Regions from separate parts of the Homo sapiens genome. Here region 2 is linked to region 1. Evidence: fine-mapped expression QTL. A gene starts in region 1. The other region holds a variant in brackets. All regions are shown on one strand. Distances are from middle to middle. Region 1 holds the start of CYP4X1 (cytochrome P450 family 4 subfamily X member 1). Region 2 overlaps CYP4B1 (cytochrome P450 family 4 subfamily B member 1).

Region 1 (5,369 bases):
TCTGTGGCAAAAATATCTCCAAAAAAACGAACAGATTTGGCATGTTTGCATATTTGGAAATATTATTTAGATGTGTTTGACAGATCTATTAGAGGATTTGGAAAAAAATAGTGACAAATATTGAAAAATGAAGCAGATTAGAAAAGGAAGAAGTTAACAATACTGTGGGGGTGGGGAAAAGTTCTATGAGAAAAGAAATAAAATGAAAGAGGACCATTTAGATCAGCAGTAAATAACATTTGCATAATAAAAATAATACAAATAGAAGTTTTTCTATTTAAAAAATACAATACTATATAGTTACTGGGACAGTGGAATATGAAGTGTAAGTGATTGCCTGTCATAAAGAAGTTCATAGGTGGATGTTGTCTTAGTACATTTGTGTTGCTGTAAAGGAATACCTGAGGCTGGGTCATTCACAAAGAGGATTATTTGGGTTACAATTCTGCAGGCTGTACAAGAAGCATGGCATTGGCATCTGCATCTGCGGAGGATCTCAGACGGCTTCCACTCATAGTGGAAGTGAACAGGAGCAGTTGTGTGCAGAGACCACATGGTGAGAGACAGGAAGAGAGAGGGGAGGAGGTGGCAGGCTCTTTTCAACAATCAGTTCTGGGGGTTGAAGAGGGACTAAGAGAGTGAGAACTTATGAAGGAGACAGCTGCACCAAGACATTCATGAGGGATCCATCCCAATGACCCAAAGATCTCCCATCAGATCCCACCTCCAACATTGGGAATCAAATTTCAACATGAGGCTTGGTGGGGACGAACAAACCATATCTAAACCACAGCAGATGTCTAAACTTATTAAATTAATAGATGCAATATGGTAATACTATTTTACAAATAAGTATTTAAATACCAGAAGAAACCGATAAAAGAGTTGAAAGTGGTTGCTTTATATAAGAAAGACTAGAAAGTGGGGAAACCAAAGGATCGTGTAGTAGCTCTGCTGGAATGCCTTCCCCACACCACCCAACCATCCTTTAAGACTCTGCTCAGCCCTTCACAGACTTTCCTTCCTTCTCTAGGCGGAGATGTATACTTTCCTCCGACAGATATTCCCTTGTCTCTAGGCCTCTAGTAAAGCACCCATTGCCTTAAATTTTCATTTTCTCTCTGTGGCCTAAGTCTGCACCTGACTTGGGTGGTGCAGGGGAGGGACTTAGCTTCTCTTTGTAATCTTAGTACCTATCACACAATTGCCACTCAGAGTCGGTTGAATGAATAAAAACCTTAATTAGGGGTGGGAGTGGATTTAAAAAACGGGAGAGACCAAAAGCTAACAGTCTCCCTTTACAAATTTCCATCAATCAGTATTTCTCGAGTGGCTGGCTGGGGCTGCTCCTTACTTCACAAGAATCTTAGGAAAAGAAAATTTTCTCTTGTTAAAATGGACTAAGGGTGCCAACGATTGGGATAGATTTTGCATATTTTCTGCAACTAATAAGTTATTTAGAATAACATGCTATTTTTAAAGCAACACATGTGGAAGGCTTGGTGAAGCAATGAGAGACAGACTTGAGTTACAGCTCGCTTTCTTTTTCCATATTCAGGTTCTTTAAATAGCTCTCTCCCAGCCCCCAAAGCTTCCTCTTTTGTGACCTTTCCCTGTGGGGCTGCGGGAAAGCAATTCTCCAGAGCAAGGAAAAATGATGCTAAGAGCCACAGGCCGGGCTGGAAAGGCCAGTGCAAGCCGGAGGGTCCCCAGGGATGGAAGAAAGCTGCGTCTCTCTGCCGGCTGGGCTCCTCTGCCGCATCCTCCTCCGCCCCTCCCTCCTCCTTCCTCCCTCCTCCCTCCCATCTACCTTCTGGTGCCCAAGGAACCAGTGGGTGGGGGGCGCTGGGAAGGGGCGCAGGTCCCGCAGCAGCCGCTGCCTCCGCAGGTACAGCTTAATGGCCTGCAGCAGCCCCAGGGCCAGGCAGAACACGAACGCCAGGTAAAAGGGCCGCGCCCAGCGCGTCTCCAGCCAGGAGAATTCCATGGCTCTGCGCAGCGCCGAACGCCGGCGGTTTCCTGGGGCGCGGGAGAGGGTGGGCTTTCTCCCGCCCGGAGCTGGCGTAGGGTCGCCCACCCCACCGCCTCTCTGGGCCCTCGCGAAGCTTCTGACTCGCGGGAAGAAGGAAAGGCAGTGGGAGGGGCAGCTCAGGCCTGGGGAGAGGAGGCAGGCGCGCGTGCGGGATTTCTAGCCGGTTACCAAAGCGCGCACGCTTCGTTCGGCCCAACTGCTTTTGCGCTCCTGGAGCGTCCTCTTTTAAGTCCAACAGTTTTCAGTCACGGGATCTGAATTTATATTGTAAAATAATGCTAAAGCTGAGGTCATTGTTTTTCTTCCTTATCACAAATTATAAATGGCTATGCAAGAGATTTTCTTTTCCATTCTGGCATTCTACCAAAATTCCCAGGTGGTAGAGGTAGGGGGAGGTGTACCATCATTATTCCTTTATCCTGTGGCCTGCCTAGTGGTGTTCCGGTAAATGGTTTACAACTGATTCCCACCCTGATTCCCAGCGTGTACCATGAGCTAGTTCAAGCTGCCGATACGAGGGCACTGAACACTGAACGGGGAAGATATGCACAGTAGCGTACCATCATATAGTAATTCCACTATACAGGTACAGTCAGGGCCTGCTATATAATTTATGAATCTCAGTGCAAAATGAAAATGCGGGATAAAAACTTTATTAACAATTCTAAGATGACAGACCATTAAACCGAGCATATGCTCTTCTGGGTTCAGAGCCTCGTGTGGCTGCTTGGGTCTCATGCCCATGAAGGGCTGACTCTAGATGCCAGAAACATAAATAAACTCGAGTACAGATAACAGGAAAATGTAGTAAAAATAATTTGAAAGTGATGGTTTTAGTATTTGTAACGTATCAGGTGGTGAACTAGGATCTAACAAGCCTGACTTCCCAAGCTGGTGTCTCCCCCCACCTCCCTGTCCCAGCAATCTTTATAGGCATTGCCCACATTTCATTCATTTATTTATTCATTCATTTATTCATTGATTTAGGCTAAGACAGGCATATGTTAAGTGTTCATTGACAGCTCTGAACAATAAACCCAATTTCTGCTACAATTCCCTGTTCTCCCTATCACTGTCCCTCCCCCACCTTCCCCGCCCTTCCGCCCCCAATTCCTTAAGCCTACGCTCCACTCTCTGGAGCCAGATTTTATTTGGCGGGTAAGTGATTAAGACAGGCTCCAGGGGGCCGGGCGCGGTGGCTCACGCCTGTAATCCCAGCAATTTGGGAGGCCGAGGCGGGCGGATCACGAGGTCAAGGGATCAAGACCATCCTGGCCAAGATGGTGAAACCCCATCTCTACTAACAGTACTAAAATTAGCTGGGCGTGGTGGCGCGCGCCTGTAATCCCAGCTACTCAGGAGGCTGAGGCAGGAGAATCGCTTGAACCCGAGAGGCAAAGATTGCAGTGAGCCGAGATCGCGCCACTGCACTCCAGCCTGGTGACAGAGTGAGACTCCGTCTCAAAAAAAAAAAAAAAAAAAAAAAAAAGACAGGCCCCAGGGGTGGTGACTTCATCTGGACCAAGTTCGTCCTGGCCCCTTGCATGTTCCATTAAGCCACACACAGCAAGTGTTTCAGCTCCTTCTTTCCCAGACTTCCCTACCTCCTACCTAACTCCAACCTTCAACTAGATGTTGTTATTTGACAGGGTCTCAGAATCCTCTGGCTTACACAGCTTCTTCTGGGTAACTCATGGCATTTCAGCTTTTCATATGATTCCTCTATGCCCTATTCCTCCCCCAAATCATGATGGTTGTATGATGGCCCTCATATGATCGCATGGTGGTAGGGCCAAAGACCTCAGATCCATGCTCTGCCCCAGAGCTGAAACTTCAGCTTTGTGATATCTTGCCTGGTCCGGTCCCTGGGTTCTTCATGAGACCGAGGAATAGTATGTGTGGTTGGTGACCTTCTAATGAGTTCTCTTGGCAGGGTCAGAGCCTGGGAACCCCTTGGCTCACCTACTCCCACCCAGGTTCTTGCTGGTGGTGTGACTCCCTCTGAGGCTTGGACAGTTCTATGCAGTTACTCCTCTGCTCCAGGGCCAGTTGCCCCTGTCCAGCACCGTTCCATGTGCTTTCATGGGTAACAAAGGAACTCTGGAACTTTTTGCACTATATTTAGGAGCCTAAGAGAGGCTGGAAGGTGTTGAAGAGGCTTGAAGTTCAGGCCTTCTCTGCTTCACTGCCATTTTCACTCTGGTTTCTCCAAAAAAAGATGCAAGGTAAAATCCCCTGTGCTCTCAACTTTCCTTTCACTCTATCTAAACCCCAATCCCAGGATTTTAGCCTAGAGGGGGATAATTAGATACTCTCTTGACCACCCGACCTCTGCCACTTTTTGCCTCAGTCCACCAGGCTGCAAGAGGTGGGTTTTCCCCACAACCTCCATTTCATGTGGTAGAAAATATCCTTATGTTATTGCTTGTGTTTTTGCTATCCCTGGTGGAGAATAAAGTTCTGTAATCTACTCCAACAGGGCAGGCTAATGGGAGAGAAAGGAATTTAGAAAATTATTTATTCTGGCCAAAGACTGGCTTTTGATACTTGCTACAACTCAAAAATATGATTCTGGAGGCCAAAAACAGAGCAGCGCCTCCTTCCTTTTTTTTTTTTTTTTTTTTTTTTTTGGCATTCCTGCACAAATATCTACTGAATTGAATTTTCTTGGCTACAGTACAGGGAATTGGAGATACCAAAAAAAATCCCATCAACCTGGATAGTGGTGCCTCTAGATGGAAATAAGCCCCATGAGACTCCCAGAAGGAGGCCTGTGCCTCTCCCAATGCTCATCTGATGGCTCCTTCCATCTCAGACACAAGAGACAAGAAATGAAGGCCAATGAGTAGCTGCTTCAATCCTACACACAGCCCAAAGAAAAGCATACATTTGTCTACAAACAGGGCAGTGCAAGGTAACTAACCTTTGACCGAAATTATAATAATTCAGTATGGCAATCTATATTTTTGATCCATTAAGATGTGGAAGTCTATTATTACTTAATAATAAATGAATTTTAAGAACATGGAACCATGGGGATAAAAGTCTAGAATTTTGTGGAGCTGTATCCCAGGATAGCATTGCAGCCCACCAATGTGGGATTCCAGAGATTCACTGCTCTCTGATTTGCTCATGTGCTCAGTTAGTAAACATGGGTTGAACATTTACTGTGTCCCAGGCCCCTGTGCTGGGCACATGCTGGGAGCTCAATGCACTGGGGAGACAAGGGTCGCTTAAGTACTTTTAAGGTAGCTATCACAGAAAGTGATGCTGATATCCTTGCCAGACAAAGGAGCCAGTAATGAAATCCGTCCAGGCTAGTGGGGATGCAGGTGAG
Region 2 (5,369 bases), 210 kb after region 1:
TCTTCCGTTCTGCACCCCTGATAGCACCTGGCATGTGTCTGGATACCCCGTGGGGGGGGGATTCTCACATATGACCAACAGAAATGGTAATGGAGGCTTCATACTCCAGGTCCTAGACCCTGGAGTTATAGGTCAGTCCCTTTCAAGTGGATCTAAAGTTCCCCCTCTGGCTCAGCATTTTCTGTACCCCTGCTGTGTGCCTAGCCCCCTCTTGGAGGCTGCTCAGGAGCCCAGAGAGAAAGGCAGGTTGTCTGACCACAAGCAAAGGCCTGAGGGGAACAGGCAGCCAGCAAGGGTGAAGGAGCCTCTTGAGAGACTCCCAGAGATCACACTGCAGAGAGGTCAGGGTCAATCCTTAAGTGTTTAGGAGTTCAGTCTTGAGCCAAGAAACAGGGGAAAACAATGGAAAGTTTTTAAGTGATGAAGTTTGGGGAAGTCTTTTCTCCTTCACCAGCAGGAGAGATATGGCATCTGGAAGCTGAGTATTGCCATCCAAAGGCAAGTAGCAAGGAACTGGCTCTCCCAGCTGTCTCAGCTCTGTTCACCCCCACATTTCCACCTCTTTCTCTCCCAGCTCTCCCTACTCTATCCAGGGACCCAGAAGGGTAATCAGGTTCTACCGTCAGAAGAAGTTAGCACACAAAATATCAGCCTCTTGTTGACAACTTTCTCTACATAACACTTCTGAAAGGCTCCATTTTGGGAGAATGGGCTCAGGGGTGCATCTGTGCCCAGCCAACCACTCTCCCCACCCCCCACCACCACAAAAGGTATGACACTGGGGGTAACAGGATAGCAGCCGCCACCTCACCTGATTTCCAGGATGGTTCAGGACAGGATGGGCATCGCCCTTCCCAAGGGCTGAGCAGGATAAACCGGGCCCACCCTCAGACTCACCACTGGAAGAAGTCCTGGTCCCCTAGGATCTCGCGGACCTCCTCTCTACAACGATGCTGGTGCTCAGGGTACAGGGCCATGCAGTAGAGAAACCAGGAGATACCACTGGTGGTGGTGTCATGGCCTTCAAACATGAATGTGTCCACTTCAGCCCGGAGGTCTGCATCTGACAGTTTGATGTCATCTTCATCCTGGGTTAGGGAAGGCATAATAGGACAGCTTGAGGTATTGGAGGTGGGTAACAAGAAGAACTCATAATGGTGGTTGTCAAATGAAGGTCTCTGGGAGGGAGTGAAAGCTCCTTTTCAGAGGGTGGATTAGGACCTTCCCCCAGATTCCTATATTCCTTCAAAGCTCAGCCTGGATGCCTCCTCCTCCACAAAGCCCTCCCTAAATGCTCTGGCCAAATGACTTGTGACCTTGTCCAGCCCTGACTGTTCTGCTCACTGGGCACATAGAATACCACCTGCCAGAGGAAGACATTTTGGTCAACATCTACCTACTGTCTCCCCTGCTGGACTGTAAGCATCTGGAAGGAAGGGCCAGGTCTTTCCCATCTCTGCATCCTAGCACGGAAATGACCCAGAGTCAGAACTCAGTGAGTTTCTAGAATTGATGAATAAAGAACTTACTGAATGAATGAATGAATGAATGAAGTCTAAGATTCTAGGATTCTACAAGGCCAACATTTTGGGGGATCTTAGAAGTCTAGAAATGTCGTCCAGCCACTACCACGTGACCTAGGCTCCCAACTCCACAGCTCAGGCACACACACCCTACACCTGCCCACCTCTGAACCCCTGCTAATATGTTTCATGGGACGAGGAACAGGTTATATTTGCTGAGGAAAGGGGGAAATGCTTAAGAGCTCCTTCTGCTGTCCTGGGAGGATGGTTGAAGACCTCTCTGGGACCAGTCCTCAGGTAGGGGTGGGCAACAATGTACTCACCCGGGCACCCAGGAGAATGTCCAGGAAGTCCAGGTGCCTCCGGTTCTGGATCTTCTTCCGCACCTTCTCATCCTGCAGGGCTGCCTTCCGCTCCCTGATGACCTGGTCTGAACCAAAAGCACAGAGTGTCACTGCCTGGGAAGCCATCTTTTGTCCAAAGGGGAACTGGGGTCCTATAATGGGAGGGGGCATAGAGGGGCCAGGAGGAGGAACCCAGGCTTCCTAGAGGTGAGCCTTGTGGGAAAGGCCCACCTGTATGGTCATGGGCCACCTGGCAGGCCCGCAGGAAGCGGCGGCCATGTGGGGTGAGCCAGTAGATGAAGTCATTATGGTACTGGAAGGACACAAGGCGCTGCTGCATCAACAGAGTGAGATCGCTGACTGCAAGGTAGTAGCTGCTGTCCCTGCTAAGCAGAGGGTAGGAGGAGGGATTGGCTTAGACACTGGCCCAGGAGCAGAGCCAGAGAAACTCCATTCCAGGAATCTAGCCCCAACCACAGAGCATCCTGCTCTTCTTCTCCCTGCCCTTAAGCCTCCTTGCTAAAGCCAGGTGTTTACCCCACCATGAGCAGGTCCTGTCTCCCCGCAAGCTAAGGCTCCCTGGGGCAGGACCCTATCTCTTCTCAGATCAGAGCCCAGGACCCCTGCCAACTCTCCCCTCTAAGATGGCTTTGGAGACAGTGCGGTCAGCCCCGAGGTGGCTCCTGACCTGTGGCCCAGGCCGGTGTCTCCTCTTCCAAAGGTGCACTTCATGAGTGTGTTCAGCGCCATGTGACCCACATCGCAGAAGATGTCAAAGGACTTACCCTCCCGAGCTTTCTCTTCCCACTTGTCCTGGAGTCCAGGGATAGGAGGCAATGTGTAGGAGGCGATGCAGGGGTTAGTTGGGCTGGATGCCCCAAGCTGCCCTCCAGGACCCGTAGCCTATCCTCCACCACCAAGCCCCCTTCACACACTCCCAGTCCCTGTCCTGCCCTCCATCCTGCTGGAATATCAGGATAGGGTGGGTAGAAGTTTGGAAGCCTCTGGGCTTCAGGCTCAGAGGGCAGGACCAGGAGGCAGATCTTGCACAGCACACAGACGTTTTCTCCCAGTCAGGGCAGCCTATAAGGGAGTAGGATGGCTGAGAGGTGGTGAGCTCCCCCGCATGGTGTATATGTAAGTAATCCTGGAGGGGAGTTTCCTACAAGGGGAAAGACTAGCCTGGATAACTTAGGGATTACCCAGCCCTAAGACTCTAACCCTGACCTCTGACATCCCTCTTAGAGATGAGTTGTATTGACATAATTCTGGGCAGCTGTGGTAGACAGAAAATGAGGAGACAC[G/T]TTTTAGATGTGAAAGCCTTTCCCCATACTCTCAAATATAGGCAGTCCTCAAACCTGCTATGCTAGGAGCCTTATTAAGTTCTCACAGAGACCCTTTGGCCTGGGAGGAAAGAGGGCTGGGTCTCCTGGTGGAGACAAGGATCGGGCTGCCAGGACACTTAGAGATTCAGCACCGACTCAGTGGCAGCCTGCGGCACATGTCAGTAGAGCAGGGCTTTGGCACTGCTGTTGCAGGCAGAACAGGCCTTGGGGCTCAGCTATTCTCCTTACTGCAGAGCACCACCTACTCTCCCCAGGACAAAATCAGGGTGGAGAGGGGCTAGCCCAGCAGGCAACAGCCTCCAGTACTCTGGCACAGGGAGCTCACCAGCATGATACGTGTAGACTCAGTGAACACGGCCACATAGGGCTTCAGCACATCATAATGAAAGCCAGGTGTGAGCAGCTTGCGGTGCTGCAACCACTTGGGCCCCTCAAGAACCAGCAGGCCTCTCCCTGGGGAAGGGATGGGAGAGAGAGGGCTGGTCAGTCCAGGCCCTGGCAGCCTGGGGCTAAGCACATCCTACACGACTCCATCCCTGAGCCTGGAACCCTCCAAGGGTGGGCCACTAAGCGACCCAGTATTGCCCTCCATGCCCTCACCCTAGGCTACCAGGACCTCAGGAGACAGGTGGCAGCAGTTCTTGGCTGAGTGAGCTCCTTCCTTAGGACAGGATAACTCAGTTTCTGTATCTCAGCTGCACCCACAAAGCCTGGGTCCAGGAACTTGTGTCAGATGACATTGCCAGATGTGAGACAAAGGACACGCATCCCCCTGGGGACAGCCAAGCAGAGGGGGAGCCTGCTGAGCCTTGACTCTCAGCTGCTGAGACTGGCCACAGCTTCAGGACTTAGGGAATGTCCCACCGTGTTCGTGCTTCATGGCCTCAGGTGGGACCCTTCCTACCCCACTCCAACACACCCAGCAATGGAAATGCATTCCTGTCTTCAAAACCACCTCTTCATTTTCCTAACCCTTTTCTGTCTGCCTTCTAATTTTATCCTCCCATTGATAACTAAAAAGAGGGTTAGAAGCAAAAAGTCTTCCCAGTGGTACTCGGTGAGTAAATAGGATTGGGAATGTGTTCTCCCTCTTGGCCCTGCCCTTTCTCAGCTCCCAGGAAAACGCTGAAGACACCATAGGATCATGAGTAAAAGAGGAGCTTTGGAGAAGCATATGGCCTTGGCTAAAGAATACTCAATGGCTTTAACTTGAGTACCTCTGTAAAGGAAAAAGTAAAATAAAATAAAATAAAATACTCAATGACTCCCACCTACTCTCAACATCAAATCACCTCCTTATCCTGGCAGTCAAGGCTGGCCTGTCCTCCCTGCCCAGCATCATCTCCAAGCTGGGCTCTGCCTTGTAGCCACCCCGACAGCCTCACAGCCTCTGGTGACCAGCCGTGGTCCTACCACCACACCATTTCCTTAGGCCCTTGCCCTGGCCAGCACTACCTATTTAAATCTCCTTTTGGATCAACTCTAGTGCCACCTCCTTCAGGAAACTGTTCTTCGCACTCACACATTCTCCAAAGCCTTTGCCCTGTCTAGAGAATCAGGCCCTGCCAGAGAAGATGCCTTGGCCCCACAGCTGGGGGCTCTCCTGCTCCTCCCTTGTCTCTCCACTGAGCAGCTGAGCTTAGGATGGGCACCCGAGAACTAGGCCATCTGGGATAACCAATTGAGTGGGACAGGCCAGGATCCTAGTCACCCAGCACCACGGGTCTGAGGTTGGCAGGGCAGGGAAGGCAGGTGCTCACTCACCAATCCACTGGAGGAAGAAGTCATACACATCAGGGGCCTTAGGGTCTGCAGGAGGAGACAATCAGGTCAAGCAGGGACCCGGGGTTCCTAGAGGAGGCTCATTTATGAGTAGGGTGGGAACCTCAGCTCCGCAGACTTAGTACACAGGCCCAGGCTTCCTCCCCATATCATGCCCTGAGCCCTTTGTTCTCAGGAAGCCCCACCCTCTCCTGAGATCCCCATCCTCTCTCCTCACCCCCACGGCTGTACACAGCTTTGGCATAGTCAGGCTCATAGATGTTCAGGAAGCCAATGAACTGTCCGAACCAGAGTGGGTGGGCATACGGGAACTGGTGGGCCCAGGACACCACTTTGTCCAGGCTCCCCGTCTCCTGGATCTGAAATGATGACAG

Evidence for each region. PIP is the estimated chance that this variant, and not a neighbour inherited with it, causes the effect.
Region 2: its variant is the best candidate, but not a certain one, in a credible set for the expression of CYP4X1 in unexposed skin (GTEx, PIP 0.70).

Annotation. Positions count from the first base shown.
Region 1 is chr1:47,020,436-47,025,804 of GRCh38, reverse strand. It overlaps CYP4X1 (cytochrome P450 family 4 subfamily X member 1), which reads right to left and starts at 2,136. Exons shown (of 12, transcript NM_178033.2): 1 at 1,811-2,136. The coding sequence starts at 1,987. It overlaps LOC124904172 (a long non-coding RNA gene), which reads left to right and starts at 3,542. Exons shown (of 2, transcript XR_007066062.1): 1 at 3,542-4,257; 2 at 4,710-5,369. RefSeq lists an enhancer at 1,342-1,842.
Region 2 is chr1:46,810,793-46,816,161 of GRCh38, reverse strand. CYP4B1 (cytochrome P450 family 4 subfamily B member 1) reads right to left here. Exons shown (of 12, transcript NM_001099772.2): 2 at 5,213-5,354; 3 at 4,978-5,022; 4 at 3,539-3,666; 5 at 2,556-2,680; 6 at 2,099-2,253; 7 at 1,847-1,953; 8 at 898-1,088. Among named protein-coding and RNA genes, the nearest start is that of CYP4B1, 14 kb to the right of the region's middle. The variant G/T (reference allele first, on the strand shown) is at 3,172.